2 separate regions of the Homo sapiens genome follow, and region 2 is linked to region 1. Evidence: fine-mapped expression QTL. A gene starts in region 1. The other region holds a variant in brackets. All regions are shown on one strand. Distances are between the middles of the regions.

Region 1 (5,391 bases):
AGCCTGACCAACATGGAGAAACCCCGTCTCTACTAAAAAAAAAAAAAAAAAAAAAAAATTAGCTAGGAGTGGTGGCACTTGCCTGTAATCCCGGCTACTCAGGAGGGTGAGGCAGGAGAATCACCTGAACCTTCAACCCAGGAGGCAGAGGTTGCAGTGAGCTGAGATGAGCCATTGCACTCCAGCCTGGGCAACAAGAGCGAGACTCCGTCCAAAAAAAACACACCAAAAAACAGAATAAGGAAGCTACTAAAACTGGGGAATTGAGCTCTAGGATATCTAAGCTACAACAGAGATGGTTTATCTGAAAACAAAAATTACTTAACCACTCTAGCTTGTTTTCCTTTCTCCAAGATGAAAGGCATTAGAGTTATACTAACTGGCCTGGTAGATCTCTGTCTGTTCTAAGCTGCTGTAAAGCAGATGAGTCTATATTTCTCTAATGGCTCCCACGCAAATTAGTTTATTAGCAAATATAAATTTTTACATGTTTGACTTTTTCCCACTCTAATTGTTCTTATGACTGATATCCAACTAAGAAGAAATGTGACAATAGTGGGTAGTGACAGAATGACCATTTAGGTATTAAAATTCTTTCTTCACTTAATTGTCAACTGGTTAGGAGAAGTGGGATAACTTTCTCTTCTGACGGAGGGAAAAAATGACCAAGGTATTGTAAAGAAAGTTTAATCAGCAGACATCAGACTTGGTTGGAATCATACACATGGTAGTAACAGTCAAGCAAAGATGGAGGAAAGATAATAGACAGCATCTGGGAAATGGTACTGAAAAAGAAGTGGGACACAAAATCTCCATTAGCAGAGAGACAACAGTAGTCTTTTTGTGTGGTTTACTGTTATAAAATTCTGAATAGGAATTCTGTTTCACAGCTGTTAAAAGAGAATTGAAATACAACTGTGTCCAATAATTGAAAAGCAGCTGTTCATTCGCCATGTCTAAAAACAATTGTATAGGAGAAATTGGCTTGGCAGTACAGCAAAAAAAAAAAAAAAAAAAGTGTAATTATTTTTAATTGCCAAAGTGGGGAAGCAATCTGACAGTGGAATAGGACATTGTATGACATCATGAAATCTGCTTTTCTGAGAGTTGAAAAATGGTTAACATTTTCTCTGCCTGATGTGCTATCCGAAGGCAGGAAGGAGTCCCAGTTCATCCCTTATAGGCCCTTAGAGAGAGCATTGTGATGCCAGTTTCCTTTTTTTGTCTATTTTTCCTCCATATATGTACACATATTGTGCACATAACTGATATGTTTTCTTAAGACTTCCCTTTACAGTAACTATTTCCCACTCTGCTGCAGACTAACAAAAACAGAAAACTAAAGGGAAATCAGTGTGAGTCCTGAAAGTTGTGTCCTGCAGTAGGGATTCTGCATAAAACACAAAGAGAGGACACAAAATACGCCACTTTTCAAGTCACATTTACAAAAGGCTTCTCTTTTATCATAATTCACTCGCCAAAAATATAATTGGACAGTCCTTTAGCATTCTGCAGTATTTCTCAGCACCAGCAAAGAGACAGTAAGGAATTTTTCACCAAGAGCCATGAGTAAAGAGAGCTTGTAGCCTTCTACAAGGATCTGGTTGCTCTGAATGGTCAAGTAATCGTGGGAAGTTTATTGTCAATGCCCGGGTAGCAACTCTTTCAACTATGTGATGATCCGCTTTTTTGCTTGCTTTCTATTAAAAAACTGTATTTGATTCTGTGCAAATTCATAAACCAAACACAAAATTCAGGGGTTAAAGAAAACAGTTCTGTAAACAGATGAGACAGACATGCTAATACATTGGAAACATGCTATTTAAATTCAGACTAGTTAAACAGGATGCCCTTTTGTCACTGACCAAATTGTTAAATTGGTGCCTTGGCAAGAGCCTTTTGTACTCTGAAGATTCCCGGGATCCAAACCTCTGTGGTATTAAAACAAACAGAGTAAATATTTTCCTTGAAGTTTACATCCAAGATCTAAATATTTCCAAGCATGTCAAACTCACTTTTCTCCACCGCTCCCTGCAGGGTCCGTGTAGACTTCGGCTGCCAAAGAACCCAGTTGAACTTGCCTTGGGAGGGGCTCCATCCCTGAAGACAAGCAAAGCTCAGAGCCAGAAGCAGGGTGTCTTGCAGCTGTGCTGCTCTGCTTGGCAGAAGGAACTCACGCAGCAGCAGGTGTGCTATCTGCTGACTTCAACACACAGAGACGGGGAAGGCTCTGTCCTTGCTGCTTGCTCCCTAAGCTTGAATATCTGCCATTCCCTTTTACCTATTTGCAGAGAAGTGCCAAGAACCTACCCCGGAAAACCTGCATTTCTCTTCATTAGCTTTAAGTGTGCAAGTCAGCTTTCTAGCTACATAACTTCTAGCTACATAACTTAAGCTAGTTGCAACTGCAAAATAAAGTGATTCCTCTGCAGAATCTAGCAGAGAATATTAACAAACTCTGTTTCTTCTCTCTCTCCCTTGTTTCATATTGTTTTCCATCCAACATGCAGCTGAAGTTCTCTTAGAAAGAGACTACAAAGAACCACAATTGAGTACCACATCAGTATTTTTTTTGGACCTTGTATCTTGGGGACTTACTCTGAAAGTGTCCCAGCATAATCGCGAAGACAATGCTCTGCTCTTTCTTTTTTTTTTTTTTTGGTAGTTACTGACAGTAAATTTTCAAACTGCCATCTCAAATTCAGTGTAATTGAACTCAACCAGAAATAATGAATATAACTGTGGGTATCAATACCTTTGCCTTTAAACTCAGTGAGGTACTTCAAAGTACCTCATCCCACCTCTAAGAAATGCACTTACATTTACCTGGAGTTACCTAATATAAATGAGCCCAGTGCTGCACTGGCCAGGCCTTCCTTCACTGAAGAACTTGTTGCTCTTCAGCTGTTGGCAGATGGCCATAAGCTGGCTGCCCTTCCAAGGATTGCCTCTGTTACAGAGAGCAGCCTTGCCCAAGGACACATCCCTTTGCAGGGAGCCCACATCCAAAAACTGATCAAGGAGGGAGTGTAAGGGCCTGTTCATTGCAAATCAACCTGAGAAAATGCTGAAGGGTCATTCTAGCTCTAGAAATCTCTATGAGATTCCCTGAAGCTGTGATGGGTCTCCGTGGAAGCTCAACTTCTTTCTCTGCCCTGTCTGCTTCCTTCCCCTAACTCGAGAGGTGTTGAATCCAAGGATGCACCTTAATTAACATAACGAGCTCTTAATTTCATCTCAGATTCGGCTTCCCAGGAACCCTAATCTTTGCCACATAGGCTCCTACAAAGCCCATTTTGGGGGGAGTCATGTCTGCATTTGATGCAGGCATCCAACCAGTCAAGTATTTGATTAAATAGGTACAATGTATAAATTTATATCCATAGGAAAATGAGGAAGGAATATTTACTTCTATCTTGGTAGAATATATAGTCAAGTTAGAGAGTTAGCATAAATATATGAAAACGTAACTCATTATATAACAAATGATAAGTATCCAATGGTTACATGGCATTGGGACTTATCAGAAGGGAAGATTGGTTTTAGGACAAACTAGTTGCTGGTTCTTTCAGGAGCAGTAAGTTTATTGTAACCCATTATTATCTGCAGGCTGTTCTTCTATGAAAGTCATCCCATCAGGACATACAAGAGTCTTCACCCTAGAAATGAGATTGATTCTGAGTAGCCTTCCTGCTGCTCTGTACCTCATGGTGAAACTGTCAGACAATTCACAATGGCAGTAGGTAAAAAACATACTTCCATAAATACTTTTTCCATGAGATCTGCTATCGTTGACCCTCTTCTTCCTGGGTTGCTTAGGTTCCCAGGGACTCTCCACTTTCCCCCTTCAAACTCCAAAGCATTGACCCATAATGAAGGTGCCTTGCCCCTCTTCTGGCTGAGCTGGTTTGCAGGGTTGGCCCTGCCAATCCAAATCCCCAAAGCTGGGTCTTGCTCTCACCTGTCTTGACTTTGCCTTTCTTGACATCTTCATTGTTTCCATTTCTACTTCTAAGTTCTCATCTCCATTTTGCCCCTTCTAGATTCTATCAACCTGCTGTGATCTCCCATCTCCTATGTAGAACTAACAGAATTTGCTCTGCCTTTTTACAAAATCACAGTCCAACATGGAGGCCTTGGGCAAATCATTTAATCTCATTCATCTTCAGTAGTCTCATTTACAAAATGAGGATACTAATTCCTACCTCCTGTAGATGAGAATGATAATGATTAATGAACTGACTTGAAAGCAGGAGTCTCCTGGGAAGAAGTAAAAACAAAACATAAACATAAAATCCTTGCCAAAACCATTACCTAGATTTACTGTATACCAAGCACTGTGTAAAGTGTTATATCATAATATATAACCCTCCAGTAGAAATTCCAAGGAACTGTGACAAAAAGTTGTGTCACTTGGGAATTAAAATGTGATTTATCTTTGGTTACTCTGACTCTATTCCAGGTGTAATCTGAAACAACACCCTGCCCATTCTTGCACAAGATCTCTTTCCTTTCTTTTTCATTCTCAATCCTACCCCATTCTAAGTTAAGCCTTAGCAATTTATAACCCGTCTAAAATGCTGCCTAATTGATTTTCATGACTCTGATTGAATGTATCTGCATAATTCCCTTGCCCCCTCAGGCTTGGAGCCAGGTGGAGAATAGTTTCAGGAGGGCAGTGTCCTATCTGCTAGGATGGGGCTCTTGTTATCCATAGTAGAAATAATAGCAACAAGACCTGAAGTAGTATCCTGGAGCAAGGCCACCATCAAAACTGTGATACAAAACAAGATTGCTAATCTGAGGAGGACATAAAGCATAAAACATGGGCCAATACTAAATCAAAACAGAGCATAAATAAGGACAACCAATGAACAAGCTATATCTAAACACATATGAAAAGGTTAAGTGGGAACTGTTTTTAAAGTGGAGAATATATGACTTTTTAAACACTTGCAAAAGCCACACAACCATCATTACAACCTAATTTCAGAACATTTTTAATCACCTCAAGAAAAAAAACATATCCATGAGCAGTCACTCCCTAGTTCCCCCTCGCTCCAGCTTCTGGCTATCCCTACTCTACCTTCTCTCTCTGTACATTTGCCTATTCTGGACAATGTGCTTCGACTTCTAGTTGGCATTGTTCTGCCGGATGTATTGAAAGAAATTGAAATGTGGTGCATTCTTTCCTGTACACCTCCATCGATAATTCGCGTCATATCTTACTCCAATTTTGCTATCCCTTTCATCAAGATTTTAACACTCTCTTCTCTTCCCTTCCTCTCCCCTTATACAACTGTTTCCGTTGCTCTTTGGTTTGAGGTTAAGATGCTTCAGCCTAAATTCCATCCAACAATTTTGCGCCCCCCTACTTCCACATGTGCCCTT
Region 2 (5,391 bases), 26 kb after region 1:
TTCTCAAGAATAAGGATGTTTCTTTTTTTTTTTTTTTCCTTGAGACACAGTCTTGCTCTGTCAGCCAGGCTACAGTGCAATGGTGCAATCATGGCTCACTGCAACCTCAAACTCCTGGGATCAAGCGATCATCCTGCCTCAGTTTTCTGAATAGCTGGTACTCTAGGTATAAGCCACCATGCCTACTAGACTCATTTTTTAAAAATATTTTTGTAGAGATGGGATATCACTATGTAGCCCATGCTGGAAGAATGAGATTATTTCTGATTTAATCTTTATCGTCTCCGAGCCTACCATGGTGCTTAGAGTAAAGACTCAGCAGATTTTTGTTATTGAGTGAAACAAGTTCTGCAACTCTTGATTATTTCTGGGGTAGTCATCCTTCTTGCCCAACCAGATTCTAACCAACCTGGTCTCTTATATTCCCAGGATTTACCTGGCCTGCCAGCCCCAGAGTGCTGGATACTGGAGGGGTCCTTTTCTGTATTCCAGCTTATGATCTTCTCTCTTTTCCATATCTCTAGAGTCTGGAAATTTCTGAAGATCTGTGCTTTGTTTTTGACAGAATTTCCCTCATGATCTCAGTTCATAACTGTCCCTCCAGTGCCATACACCATGGTTAGATGCTCTTTGTTTTCAACAGCTGCCCCAGTACTAGAGCTTCTGAGCCTTGCTGAGTTTTGTCTTCTTTTGTTCCTTGCCCTCTCTTCCCAATGCCATCAGAACTGCAGTCATTTTCCTGCCATCCCAGTAGTTTCCTGCTAAAGTCTATAGCTTGATTCTCTGCTCCTCTAGAATTGCCACGTGTATTAGTCCATTTTCACACTGCCGATAAAGACATCCCCGAGACTTGGTATGCCTTCCACATGGCTGGGGAGGCCTCACAATCATGGCAGAAGATGAAAGTCACGTCTCACATGGTGGCAGATGAGAGAAGAGAGCTTGTGCAGGGAAACTCCCCTTTATAAAACCATCAGATCTTGCGAGACTTATTCACTATCATGGGAATGGCATGGGAAAGACCCCCCCCGCCCCCCACCACGATTCATTTACCTCCCACCAGGTTCCTCTCACAACACATGGAAATTGTGGGAGTTACAATTCAAGATGAGATTTGGGTGGGACAAAACCAAACCATATCACCACGTGACTGTCACCACACTGCCACACATAGAGCTAATCCTGGATGCCATGCCTACTTAGGCACTCTTAGCTAAGAGTGAAAAACCACATCTTCTGTACCTGTCATCAACCAAACTTTTCCTAAAGTCGTGATAGCTTTTGGAGGCCTCTATCTTTTCTAACTTCCCACAGAAAACCTTCAGTATTGCCAAACAAATCTGCCTCAACCATAAATTACACTTAACATTATCTATATAACCCTGGCTAGATCAGCATGGGTAGGCACTTGAAACATAAATTGGTTTTACACCTGGATTTGCTCTGAGAGTATGGGCAGCTTTTTTTTTTTTTTTTTTTTTTTTTTGCAATCTGCTTGTATTCTACCTTACCAAGTTGCAGGGGTGTAAAACTTCTGTCACTTTTACTGACTAGTTTATCTGAGTGGTAATTAGGCTTCCTGTGGAAGTAGTTTCTCTGGTTTAGAGTCTGGGTGAAAGATGAATTTCCAACATTAATTAATCATCTGAACATGCTTGTTATAATATTATGAGCATTGTTAACAACCAGCCCCTATGGTAGGAAAAAATAACACCTTTTAGGACTAATCTATTTCTACCACAAGATATATCTTAAAAGGTGTATTGAAAATGTATTACTTATTTCCAAAATACCTGCAAAGAAATAACTTAATGTTTAATTCACATGTGAATAGGACTATTTCTTAGTATGAGATTACTCCCTCCTGATTCCAGACAATTTAGTTGTTGGTTAATAGTCTCTTTTTACTAGATCTTCAGTATTTCACCCTTATTAAAGAAAGAAATACCTAACATACATAATGAAAAGTTATGTGCTCTAGCAGCTTGTTTTTGTCCATTCCTCATTTCATATCCACCTGTAGCATGTGTTCTTTTGGGTAACTATGATCAACATTCTCTGATCGCTTTTGGTGAAACAGACTCTCACTAGGGAGACCAACTTGCTCCACACACAAGTTTTCATAGCTCAAGTTACCAAATAATTTTAATATCACAATTATGCAACACATTCTGTAATCTTGTCAGAGCCATGATATTTCACAGCCTGAAGAAACTCTCAAGATCACCTAACACACTATCCATTTCTTAGATCAAGATATTCAGGAAGGTGAAGTGACTTGCACAATAAGCTGGCGGTAGAATAAGAAGTCTTCTCAGGGCCAGGCATGGTGGCTCATGCCTGTAATCTCAACACTTTGGGAGGCAGAGGTGGGAGGATCACTTGAGACTAGGAGTTCAAGACAAGACTGGGCAACACAGGGAGACCCCATCTTTACAAAAAAAATTAAGAAATTAGCCAGGTGTGGTGGTGCATATCTGTAGTCTTTGCTACTCAGAAGGCTGAAGTGGGAGGATTGCTTGAGCCCAGGAGTTTGAGGCTGCAGTGAACCATGATCACACAACTGCACTCCAGCCTGGGTGAGAGAGCGAGAAAACAAAGGAAGAACATTTCTCAGATCTCCTGACCCACCTACATCCCTTGTAATTCATTTATTTTTTAATCCATTCACTTTTCTATACAAATACTTACTAAGTACTACTTTATGAAGTGGACCCTTCCAGAGCTTTGAAAAGACGAGGAAGAGAGATGTGACTCCTGCCTTCATTACCTGTGCATTCTAGGTAATTCGGCTAAACACACAACGTTGGTTTCTCCATCAATCACAATAGAAATGTAGGTGTATAATACATGATGAGGTCAATGAACTCTTAAGACTTCTTATAGCACAGATAAGGATCCACTCAGAACTATTGCCTTTTGTGGATACATTGCCCTCACTCCTTCTAAAGCATAACACTCTCTCTCCATCTTCCAATTCTAACCTTGAATTAAATCCCCATTATACTATAGCTTCCAACTAGCATGTAACCCTCT[C/T]ATCTAATTAAGAACTTATTCGGGACAAGGACTTCCATACTCCTGGTCCAAACAGTCATAACCAGTAAAGAAGAACATTTTCTCTGGGGATGAAAGTTCACCTCCCTTTATACAGTGGTTCTCAGTGGGTGGGCAGTTCTGCCCTGCAAGAGACATTTAGCAATGTCTGGAAACATTTTGGGTTGTTACAACTGGGGAAGGGTGCTACTGGCATCTAGAGAGGGGAGACCAGGGATGCTGCTGAACATCCTACAATGCACAGGACAGCCTTCCTCCCTGCAATAAAGCATCATGCAACCACAAATGTCAGTTATGTCCAGGTCAAGAAACCCTAGGAGCCACCTACAAAAGGAAACCGGAAGTGGAATCATGCAGTATTTGTCATTTTGGGTTGCCTATTTCACTTAGCACAGTGTCCTCTGGGTTCATCCATGTTGTTACAAACAGTAGAATTTTTTTTATCTGAAATAGTCAAACTTATAGAAACAGAGGACAGGATGGTGGTTGCCAGGATCTGGAAGGGAGGGGGAAGTGGAAAGTAGTTTAATGGGTGTAAAGTTTTATTTATGCACAATGAATAAATTCTAGAGATCTGATGTACAACATAGTGCCCTCTATTTCACCAATATGGCATTGTGTAGTCAAAAATTTGTTAAGAGGTTAGATCTCATATTAAGTGTTCCCACATACACATGCAAAAACACAAAGGGGAACAATAAAACGTTTGGAGGTGATAGATACGTTTAATATTTTGATGATATCATGGGAATGTGTATATGTTCAAACTCACCAAATTTATACACTAAACATGTAATTTTGGGGGGATATCAATTATACCTCAATAAAGCTGTTAAAACCAAGTAACCTACAACCCAGGAAGCACAATTGTCCCTTCAGACCCACTCAGGATAATTGATTTCAATAGAATCAAATGCAAAGCCTTTAGAGAATCTTCAATCACCTTGATTGTTCTAGTTTCTTCCCTAACAAGGAACTGGAATGTTATTTCACTCAAATATATACTCATACAAAATAAAAAACTCTAACCATTAACATGCAGTTTATGTGCCATCATTAAATTTCTTGGTAGTCTTCAATAACTTATGAAAGTATTATCAATATTAGCTACATTTTCTGTTTTCAGTGTGAATAAATAAATTACAGGTTCAATGACTACCACGTATAACAAAGATACTTTCCCCGCAAATCTGGAAAAGAATTTCATAGGAAACCAAAAATAAAGTATAAATTATCCCTGAAGAAAAAAGATAATCTCATTTTAAAATATTTTAAATCAATCCAAGATATGAAAGACTAAGGTATATGCTCTAAATATTATCAGTTCAGCTTTTTTACTACTCAAAACCTTTATGCTCTATTTAACAAAAATATTAACAAAATCGTAGTGTCATGGCAATATAATTAACAAAAATTAGTTATTTTAAACCAATAGCTAAGGCAGCAAATAATTGTCATATAAACATCTCACCCAGTAAAAAGTATGATATGCATAATCATAACAACCATCCCTTATTGAAGTCCAATCCTGTCTCCTTCATGGTCTCCAAAACTAAGGCTCATAACTTTGAGAAGTAGGTTATTATTTTCTCCAGTTGAATTATAACAATATAGGTTTGTTAAACAGATTGACTAATGTATTCGTTCATTTTCACACTGCTACAAAGATGCTGAGACTGGGTAATTTATAAACAAAAGAGGTTTCGTTGACTCATAGTTCCACATGACTGGGGAGGCCTCAGGAAACTTACAATCATAGTGGAAGGCAAAGGAGAAGCAGGCACCTTCTTCACAAGGTGGTAGAAGACAGCAAGAGTGAGTAAGTGCCACACTTTTAAAACCATCAGCTCTTGTGAGAACTCATTCACTATCAGGAGAACAGCATAGGGGAAATGGCCACCATGATCCAATCTCCATCTACCAGGTCCCTCTCTCAGTACATATGGATTACCATCTTGATGAGATTTGGGTGGGGACACAGAGCCAAACTATATCAGTTAACATACCCACGTCATAACGAAGGAAAACCAAATGCAGCTAAATATAGCTCAAAGTTTCACACCACTTTCTCTACATCCCAGTGTTCCCAGAACTTCACTTTCAGATAAAGTCTCATCTCTTGCCATTAGCATTTTACAGAAGCCAAAAATGACCTCATCTGTTCACCCTTCCTCAATTCTTAGGTTGCTGTTACATATCCCATGCTCTTTCTTAAGAGTCTTCAGGCTAAAGTAGACTAGAAAAACAAAAGTCTAACAGGGCCAGGTATCTAATTGAGTTCAGTCATATTAACTCACCAAACACTGCTTAATTTTGTGTCTACCTTCTTCAGAGTGG

Which allele goes with the higher level. Alleles are on the strand shown, and positions count from the first base shown. SD is a standard deviation of normalised expression in the study named.
For the expression in esophagus mucosa of the gene that starts at base 2,146 in region 1, allele T in region 2 goes with a higher level than allele C (small effect, 0.38 SD a copy in GTEx).

Evidence for each region. PIP is the estimated chance that this variant, and not a neighbour inherited with it, causes the effect.
Region 2: its variant is the best candidate, but not a certain one, in a credible set for the expression of LINC01497 in esophagus mucosa (GTEx, PIP 0.55).

Annotation. Positions count from the first base shown.
Region 1 is chr17:69,958,462-69,963,852 of GRCh38, reverse strand. It overlaps LINC01497 (long intergenic non-protein coding RNA 1497), which reads right to left and starts at 2,146. Exons shown (of 5, transcript NR_110875.1): 1 at 2,016-2,146.
Region 2 is chr17:69,932,118-69,937,508 of GRCh38, reverse strand. No RefSeq gene overlaps it. Among named protein-coding and RNA genes, the nearest start is that of LINC01497, 27 kb to the left of the region's middle. The variant C/T (reference allele first, on the strand shown) is at 3,037.